Linked DNA regions of Homo sapiens. The protein of the gene in region 1 purifies or fractionates together with the protein of each later gene. This does not show direct contact. Each region holds a gene or a part of one and is shown on either strand. Other genes may lie near its edges.

What was found. The genes of interacting proteins can lie anywhere in the genome.
Region 2: the proteins of RCVRN (region 1) and RAB9A purify together in Homo sapiens (affinity purification with mass spectrometry; 2 studies listed by BioGRID and IntAct, with this or other methods). This does not show direct contact.

What each region holds. Positions count from the first base shown.
Region 1 is NC_000017.11:9,894,809-9,899,939, reverse strand, and holds the end of RCVRN (recoverin), read left to right. Parts: intron 1-1,735; coding exon 1,736-1,845; 3' UTR 1,846-3,620; downstream 3,621-5,131. UniProt on the Homo sapiens protein: Acts as a calcium sensor and regulates phototransduction of cone and rod photoreceptor cells. Modulates light sensitivity of cone photoreceptor in dark and dim conditions.
Region 2 is NC_000023.11:13,708,005-13,712,348, reverse strand, and holds the end of RAB9A (ras-related protein Rab-9A), read right to left. Parts: intron 3,629-4,344; 5' UTR 3,603-3,628; coding exon 2,997-3,602; 3' UTR 1,845-2,996; downstream 1-1,844. UniProt on the Homo sapiens protein: The small GTPases Rab are key regulators of intracellular membrane trafficking, from the formation of transport vesicles to their fusion with membranes.

The sequences.
Region 1 (5,131 bases):
ACCTCTGGAGGCAGTCTTCTGCCAAGGTTCAAGAAGAAAAAGCTGAGCAGGATGCTAAATAAGGGCAGAGAGAGATGACCCTGCTCCTCCTAATCTGCCAACAAATGATGAAATAAGAGAAGCATGAAGGTCATTGGGGTAGGAGGAACATAGGACACAGAATTTAAGGAGGCGCTCGTTCTCAGGGGTCAACAATGCACTCACAGGACCTGAAAGTGAGCGCCTCCTTAAATTCGCGCCTTGGTACTTTACCCACCTTTCCCTCATCGGCCCGGATTGGCCCCTCACCTTTGAGCACTCTCTCCTCCTTGCACAGACACTGGCTACCAAGATGCCTTCTTTTGGCACTTTGCCCCACTGGCTCCTTAACTGGCTTCGCGACCTCCCTCTGGGTCCGTTCATGTGTCGAGCCCTGTGTTCTGCTTTTTGCTCATCTGAAAACCTCCCTGGTGAACATCCCGGGAGGGGATGACGTCAGAAGCCCCGAGGTCGACGTGTTACTCCTGTTCGTGATGTGTTGTACGTGTTTCCACGCGGCCCATCTGGAGACAATGCCTCAGGGCAGAGTCAGGCTTTGATGGTGGGAGTTTCAAGCTCTCTGTGAGCTCTCTGTGGGGTGGCTGGGATGTTAAAACCCAAATTTTACCACCCAGACTTGCGGAGGAAGCCATCCTGGATCCTAACCCAGAAGGGATTAAAGGTATCCAAAAGGCCCAGAGCATAAGTCAGAAATCACATTCAGTTCAGCAAAGCTTTGTTGAGCACCGACTCTGTGCTAGGCACTGTGAACATACAACAGAAAGGAGCATCTGTCTCATGCTAGAGGTATTTCTGCGTGTGACTGCCTTCCCCGCCAGGTCAACAGTTTCCCAGGGAGGGACTTCATCTCACTCTCTTCTATTGTACACCCCGCCTCCGCTCCCTGTGGTGGCCTTGGCTCCAAGCACAGTGGCATCTGGGCTCAGGACCATGCATTTAACTGGACTGATCTGAATACAGTTAGCCACCTGATTAAAAACACCGGAAAACCAGGTGTGGGCGCAACAAGGCTGTCTCTCAGTCCTGATCCCAAATAAGGAGGCAGATGAGACTGGGGGACGCAGGGATGGATGCATAGGAAGGGATCATGGCGGAGTTGTCAGCCAGGAATCATGGGGCTGCCTGTGTGCTGCAGGTGCCAAAGAGACCTCTCTGCAAGCCACACTCCCCCTGGCATGATCTCATTGGGCCCTTCACTTCTCACTCCTATTTCTGGAGGGATGTTGTTCCCTGCTTCTCAGCTGAGACTCTGGGCCTGACATCCAGATTGTTTTGCTATGCTCAGACCCCCAGAAGCTCCTCCTGAACTTGATCCTTGAAACTTGAGCTACTATAGAAAATAGAATAACAATTAATAGTTATTAATTATTGAAGTATTTAATAACCAGCAAGGCAGGGGCACCGGCCAATCGGAAGAGACACATAGCACAAGACTGGCATCTTGGGGGCCCCCCCAGTGCCAGTCATTCACCGCTCTTTGCTGGTCTGCAGGGAGCTCCAAGGGTCATGGGAAAGGAGGTGGGTATCTGGACTGGGGTGGGGGAATATTGAATACTCAGGGCCACTGAGTATTCAATATTCTTATAATAGATACATTCACACTGGGGATACTGGCTAGATGTCAGCCTCATCGCAGCTCACTTGGCTATCAATCCTGACTGTTTTATGTACGTATATATTTTTTCCCAATGCACAGATAAACTTACAGAGAAAGAATTCATTGAGGGGACACTGGCCAATAAGGAAATTCTGCGACTGATCCAGTTTGAGCCTCAAAAAGTGAAGGAAAAGATGAAGAACGCCTGATGCCAACTGTTCAGCTGTCCTCCCTCCACCTACCACTCACATGACACCCGTGAGCGCCTGTGCACACACACACACATGCACACACACGCGCGCGCACACACACACACACACATCCACCCCAGGGCCAAGAGAAAGGCCTGCACACAAGCCCACAGCACAGCTCCCTGCCAAACTGAAGCATCTGTAGTGACCCACTGGTTCCTTCTTCCTGGGTCTTCAGCATTCCCTCCCATCATGCCCGGTCCCACCCCTCCCTCTGTCCACCAGCCCATGGCCCTGTGCTAATCCCAGGATTAGGCCATAGGAGTCCTAAGTGTCACCCCGCTGTAAGCTCCTTTGTGGAGTGCTGGGTAAGCAGTTTCCAATAAACGCAAGCTGAGCTGGGCACGTGGCTGCTGGTCATCCTTCAACTGGAAAAGGAAATGATTTCTATCAGTCACACCTCAAAGACAAGGCTGTGTTGCGATGGCAGCCCTAGGCTGGGCTGCTTTGGTGCGGAATGAGTCTAATGCGGTCCTGCTGTCATGGAGCTCATGGTCCAGAGGGGACAATGAACCTGGAAGGAGCCATGACCAGTGGCCCAGGTTACCATGGAAACGTGCAGAGCACCAGGGGAGGACACAGTGGAAGGGGCTGACTTGTCAGGGGGGATCAGGGACCACATCCCTGACGAAGGGAGATTTAAATTCAGAACCACTGCACACGAGGCGGGGGACGGGGTCGGGGTGGGGAAGTCTCAAACAGAAGGCGGCCAACACAGAGCCGCTGAGGCATGAATGACCATCTCGAGTTCCAGGAGAAGGTCGGGGTGGCTGGAGGGTAGAAGGAGGAGGGAGAGCAAAGTGTGAGCTGAATCTAAAAGGTAGGCGGGGGCTGGACCACGCAAAGCCCTCCCTGCAGCCTGTGGTAAGCACTTGGGGGCTCACCATGGGGACAGCGGTGCCACTGTGGAGTTGGAAGTAGGAGGGGTTTATGTTTGTAAGAGAAGTCCCCAGCAGGCTAAAATAAGTCAGAGAGGAGCAACTGGGGGCTCCCTGGAGTCAGGGAGCCCGATGAATAAGCTTTTGCAGCCACTCAGATGGCCTGGGCCAGGGGAAAGGCAATGGGATGGAGAGGACCAGATCCAGTGAGGACACATTTAGGAGGTAGCATCCACCTGGCTGGCTGAGGGGGCAGGAGGAGAGAGGGCAGGAATGGCAGCCAGGCCTGTAGCTTGGGCAGTGGGTGAATAGCAATGCCATCTATGGAGATGAGAAATACAGAGAGTCTTTGGGGTTTCAGGGAACAATGATGAATTCAGCTTCAATATAGTATGAGGTGAAGGCAGAGCCATAGATGGCCCTAAAGCCCCTTGTTTTAGAGACAAGGAAAAGGAGTCCCAATGACAGGAAGCAGCTTGCCCAAGGGCAGCCAGCTGATGAGCAGAGGTCAGGCAAGGGCTACCCACCGGCCCCCAACTGCCTCCTCAAAGCTCCAGGGCCTGGGATACCCAGGAACTCCATCAGTGCATTCTCCAAGATCCCTGGATTTGTTGCTTTGAAGGCCCATTTATTCTCCAGCCTCAAGTTCCAAGATGAGGTCAGAAAAATGCATGGATACCCTGGATTCTTGACTGACCTGTCTGCAACCTCTTGAGGCTGAGGAGTCTCTAGTTGCTGGTATTGTGGTGATGCCTCCAGACCCCACTTTAGCCACAGAGATGACACAATCACCACTGCCAAAGAGCACTCCTCTGTGTGGAGAGCAAACGTGAGAATAAACACTTATGAACCGTGCACCATGCTAGACTCTGCCATCATTATTTCATTGATGGAGATGTTATTATCTGCACAATACAGATGAGGATACTGAGGGCAGGAAGTGTGAGTAGGAGTTGGTACTTAAACTGGAGTCCCTTTGATTACACCAGATTTCTCCAATAGTTTTGACCTGGACACAGCAGGATAGAGAACTCTAGGATTGCACAATGTCAGAGATGGAAAGGGGAAGGAGGCTACAAGGCATGAGTCCAGAGGTTCTGGGAGGAGAAGGATTATTACTAGAATCATCTACCCAAGGCATTCTCCCATGTAGACATAGTGGGCTATATAGAAGCCAGTTCAGTGGGAGATAAAAGACTCTGTGGGTCCAGTCCAGAGTGTTCTAGGAATATAACCAAAGGGCTCAATGCTCTTTCCACCACACTCCATGAATGAATCTGGTTGCTTCGAGGATGAGGCTGGGGGCTTTTCACTTCTCTCTGAGGTCAGTCTATCATTGTCACTTGAGTCTAAAAGGACAGACACTGCATAATTAGGTCCTTGCTGGTTTGTGGTTCAATGGGAGAGCCAAAGAGTGAAAACCTAATTAGTGCCTCTTTTTTTAGCTTAGGGTGGAAGGACCACTTGGGCTGAGATTCTCTACAGCTGTATGACACTTTGTGGAAAATAAAGCATGAAGTTCAACTTGGCCACAGGGAAGAGGAGGTGGAGATAGTGATGAGCTATGTCATCAAGACTCTTCCAGATGCAAAAGGTAGATGACCTGGCACAAATTATTGTGGCACAAATAGAAATTGCTTGGCTCTTATAGCTGAAATTCTAGGAGTAGGGCTAGCTTCAGGTATGGCTTAATCCAGGGGCTCCAACAATGTCCCAGAGTTCATTTCTCCCTCTCCTGGTTCTGGTTTCTGCTGTCACCACCATTCTCAGACAGGTTCTTCCCATGCTGGCAGGACGGTCACCAGCAGATCCAGGCTGCCTTCTTCATGGTTCCAATTTCAGCAGAAAAGAGAAAATGCTTTCTCTTAAGAGTCCCAGCCAAAGTGTCAGGATTGCATCTCACTGTCTCTGGTTAGTTATATGCCCATGCCTGACTCAATATCTGATGCCAGAAGGATGTACTGCTCTGCTTGGCCAGCAGATTTTTATGCCCATCCTTGAACTGAGGATAGAGTCAGGACAACTCAAGTTCCGTGGACTGACAGTAGGAGATGAGTGGTTTTTCCAAGAGGAAAATTGGGGTACTATAAGAAGGGCAGATTCTAAAAATAGATGTCTACTATAGAGACCTTGGGGAAGTCATTTCCTGTCTCTAGATCCCTGACTCCTCAAGTACATGTAAATTCAAGGGCAGAAATGGGTCTCATTAAGAGCAATAATCCAAACTGCCTGAGCTTCTGTTGCCACCTGCCCACATAAGATCCCAGCCCCTTGTGCAGTGTCTCTTGGGCATTTTTAGCATCTCCAGGAGGTGTCCCACACAGATTCACCCATAGATCCCTTAGTGCCAGGTGCCATTGCTGCCC
Region 2 (4,344 bases), on another chromosome or scaffold:
TGAGTAACTTTTGAGCAAGTAATTCTAAGCTTTGTCTTGTATCCTTGTGTGAAATTGCATAATTTTTACCCTATTTGATTTCTTAAATAAAGATGTTTGCTCAAGATCGTGGTAGTTTAATATCCATTTTTAAAGTGCTGCTTTCGTCCTATTTCTCCTATTGATAGTCTAGTCTGCAAACTAATATGATGTCTTCACCTGTTATAGAGCTCAGATTGACTCAAACTAGATGCCAGAGCTTTGGGAGCAGAAAAATTTACATACTCATCTAGAAATCTAGGAGTAATTTCAGCAAACGTGTATTTTTTTGTATATAGTTGGCCCCTCCCTCAATGAGCATATCATCCAGAGGGCTGTGATGCAGGGCAGCCAAGAGCAGCAGGGTGATTGATTGAGAGCAGGAAGACTTGGCTCAGCTGCACAACAGTGGTACCCTGAAAATAGCCTTTTCTCCAGGCTGGTGAAGGTGAGGTAGGCACTAGTAACACACTTGTGAGTATATTACTAAAGTTAAATGCCAAATTTCATGTGTGACTGAGTCTTCAAAGGAGCTGGAAGGGAAGTGGAGCATTGAGTGGGACCTCCAAGGTAGGCTGCACAGGAAAGCATTGCAGGTGTGAAGGTGTGAAGAGCACTTGGGCACATGGGTGGAACTGACAGCTGATTGATTGATAGATAGATAGGAGCTGATCATGAGGAAAGCTAAGCTGGCAAAGCTTGGATCTGGTAGGTGATGTTCCTTGAAGGTTCTGGAACACAAGAGCAATGGGGTGAAGTCAGTCTTAAAATCAGGCTCTCCTGAGCACATGTATGTTAGCACAAAGTTGGTTATCTGCTTTAGTGCTCCAAAAGTGATCCAGATAAAACGTACACCGAGTTTTGTCATCTTGCCATAGCCAGAAACTTACTAGGATGCTTCCTTTGGCATGGACATAGATCGTCTCAGTCTCTGCTCTGCCCATGCTATTACCCATGTGCTTTAATTTTTCAGTCACTTCAACACTTCCTGGTTGACAGTCCAGAGTTCCAGAAACCACTGACTCTCCAGACACCACCTTTCACTGGGTACCACACTGGTGTGTTTTTCTACTTAACAAACACTTCACTACTCTACAAGACACGGATATTGTGTGAGAACTTGCATGGTGGTGTCACAATATTAAAATGAAAAGTTTGTACAGAAATATAAAAAGGTTTTCTTCTAAGACAAGTAATAGTAGGAATGTTTTAACTTCAACTAGGAAACTTTCCCCAAGGGTGAAAAATAAAAACATTTAGTCCATTAATGAATTGTAATTTTGTATCTTCCACACAGCACATTGTAATTGTTACATCAGTTAACAAATGCAGGTTTGTCTGTTCTCCAGTTCAGTAGTTTGCTTTTTTTTTTTTTTTTTTTTTTTTTGAGGTGGAGTCTCACTGTCACCAGGCTGGAGTGCAGTGATGTGATCTCGGCTCACTGCAACCTCCACCTTCCGGGTTCAAGTGATTCTCCTGCGTCAGCCTTCCGAGAAGCTGGGACTACAGGCACGATGCCCAACTAATTTTTGTATTTTTAGTAGAGACCGGGTTCACCATGTTGTCAAGGATGGTGTCGACCTCTTGACCTCCAAAAGTGTTGGGATTGCAGGCGTGAGCCACCGCGCCTGGCCTTGCCTTTTTTCTTAAAACCGAACTGTATCTCTGCTGGGGGCAGTGGTTCACTCCCTACATGACAGTCAGCTCCTCTCACCCAGCATGTCCTTTGATATCCCCATCACTCCCCAGTTGAGGGTCTCATCCACACTCAGTCTAGGCTTTGGTTAGCCTCCATAGAATCAGATAGTCACCAACCACACAGCATATGAACTTCATCCACAAAAGACCACAATTTGCTTTATCAAGTCTGATCACTGCAACAAGTCTTTTTCTAACAAAAAATCTCCTTGAGAGCAAATCACTAAATGTTCAGTAATAGAGAAGACACTAAGTAAATACATTGCCGAATAAAGATGTCTTCGTTTACCCTCTCACAAAGTACAATCCTTCTTAGTATTTCTTCTGAGAGTGATAAAGTCAGCTTGTGTCTTGTGTTATAAAGGAATGTTTTAACTTCAATTAAGAAACTTTCCCCAAGGGTCAAGAAAGTAACAAAAATATTTAGTCCATTAATCGAATTGTAATTTTGTATCTTCCACACAGTACATTGTAATTATTACATCAGTTATCAAATGCACATTTGTCTGTTCTCCAAGTTCAGTAGTTAGCCTTTTTCTTAAAACTGAACTCTATCTATGGAAAGGCTTTCCATTCATAGACAACTTGAATTTAGCTGGATGTATTACAGACTGTATGAAGCAACTCTTGTACCACTGGGGGCCCACCCTCCGCCTGAGACTGTGGAACATGATTTATGGGGGTGGGGGTGCATGAATGGCACACAAATGATGAGTAATTACTAGTGAGAGTAATTCTAGTATGTAGAATGAAAACAGGAATGGTTAAATCATTTTGAAGAGAATGAAGAAGTAAATTAACAATGCATTGCAAATACATTAGATTTTAATCTTTAATATCTAACATTATTGCTTTAGGAAAGTATTTCCCTGAACCAAGAATACAATGCTAATTGCATAAAAACATACACATATAAAAAGTAGTTCTCCATTTTCCCAGGAAAAAATCCAAGTATAACTTCTAGAATAGTCAAGTTTCTTATTTTTATTATAATTAAAGTCTTGGTCATTTCATTTATTAGCTCTGCAACTTACATATTTAAATTAAAGAAACGTTATTAGACAACTGTTACAATTTATAAATGTAAGGTGCCATTATTGAGTAAATATATTCCTCCAAGAGTGGATGTGTCCCTTCTCCCACCAACTAATGAAGCAGCAACATTAGTTTAATTTTATTAGTAGATGATACACTGCTGCAAACGCTAATTCTCTTCTCCATCCCCATGTTGATTTTGTGTATATGTGTGAGTTGGTTAGAATGCATCAACAATCTAACAATCAACAGCAAGATGAGCTAGGCTTGGGCTTTCGGTGAAGATTGACTGTGTCTGTCTGAATCAAATGATCTGACCTATCCTCGGTAGCAAGAACTCTTCGAACCGCTTCCTCAAAGGCTGCTGCCACATTTGTGGCATCTTTTGCACTTGTTTCAAAATAAGGATAGTCGCCGTTGTCCCTGCACCAAGCTTGGGCTTCTTCTGTAGACACCTGCCGTTCGCTTATGTCAATCTTGTTACCCAGAATCACAAAAGGAAAGCTCTCAGGCTCTTTCACATCTGCATAATATATGAATTCTTTCTTCCAGTTACTTAAGTTCTGGAAGCTTTGTGAATCATCGACACTAAAAGTAAGCAGGCAGCAGTCAGAACCTCTGTAAAATGGTGTCCTCAGGCTTCGGAATCGCTCCTGACCTGCCGTGTCCCAAATCTGCATGGTAACAAAATGTCCATCCACTTCCAAATCTTTATTTAAAAATTCCACACCTATTGTATGGAAGAGCTGGGTATCAAACTTATTAGTTACATATCTGTTCATAAGTGAACTCTTCCCAACTCCACCATCTCCAAGGAGAATTACTTTAAAAAGTGATGATTTTCCTGCCATTGTTAATCTCAAAAGCTTCAAGAACCCTGTAAAATAAAAAGGCACCATTACATTCCTTTATACCTACACATTCTTCTACATGATTCTACGAATATCAGCATTTAGCTGAAATAAAACATATGGCCCCAGGGAATACCTAATAATAAGACTTGTTGTTTACTGAGCACTTAGCCATGTGCAGGCTACTATTCTACCATTATTCTCTGAAACAGCTGGGAAGGGCTCACTCTTCCCTTTTCTCAGGTCACAGTTGACTGTGAAGCTGGCACTCAAGCCCAAGTCTGACCCCAAAGCCCTTGCTCTGAACCGTTACTCTATGATAAGCCCCTCTCTGCTCATAGTAAGCCCCACCATTTGTTAGAGATGGGTAGGAGACCAAAGTTCGCATGTTGTTGTTGTTGTTGTTTTGGTTTTGTTTTTTTTTTTGAGACAGGATCTCGCTGTCACCCAGGTTGGAGTGCATGGGACCATCTTGGCTTACTGCAGCCTTGAACTCCCAGGCTCAAGCAATCCTCCCACCTCAGCCTCCCAAGTAGCTGAAATCACAGGTGCACACCACCATGCCTTGCTAATTTTTCTATTTTTTTGTAGAGACAGGGTCTCAACCACGTTGCCCAGGCTGGCTTCAAACTCCTGGGCCCAAGCAATCCACCTGTCTTGGCCTCCCAAAGTGCTGGGACTACAGGCGTGAGACACCATGCCCAGCCCACATGTTTCTCTTAACAACTTCAAACAGCCCTTC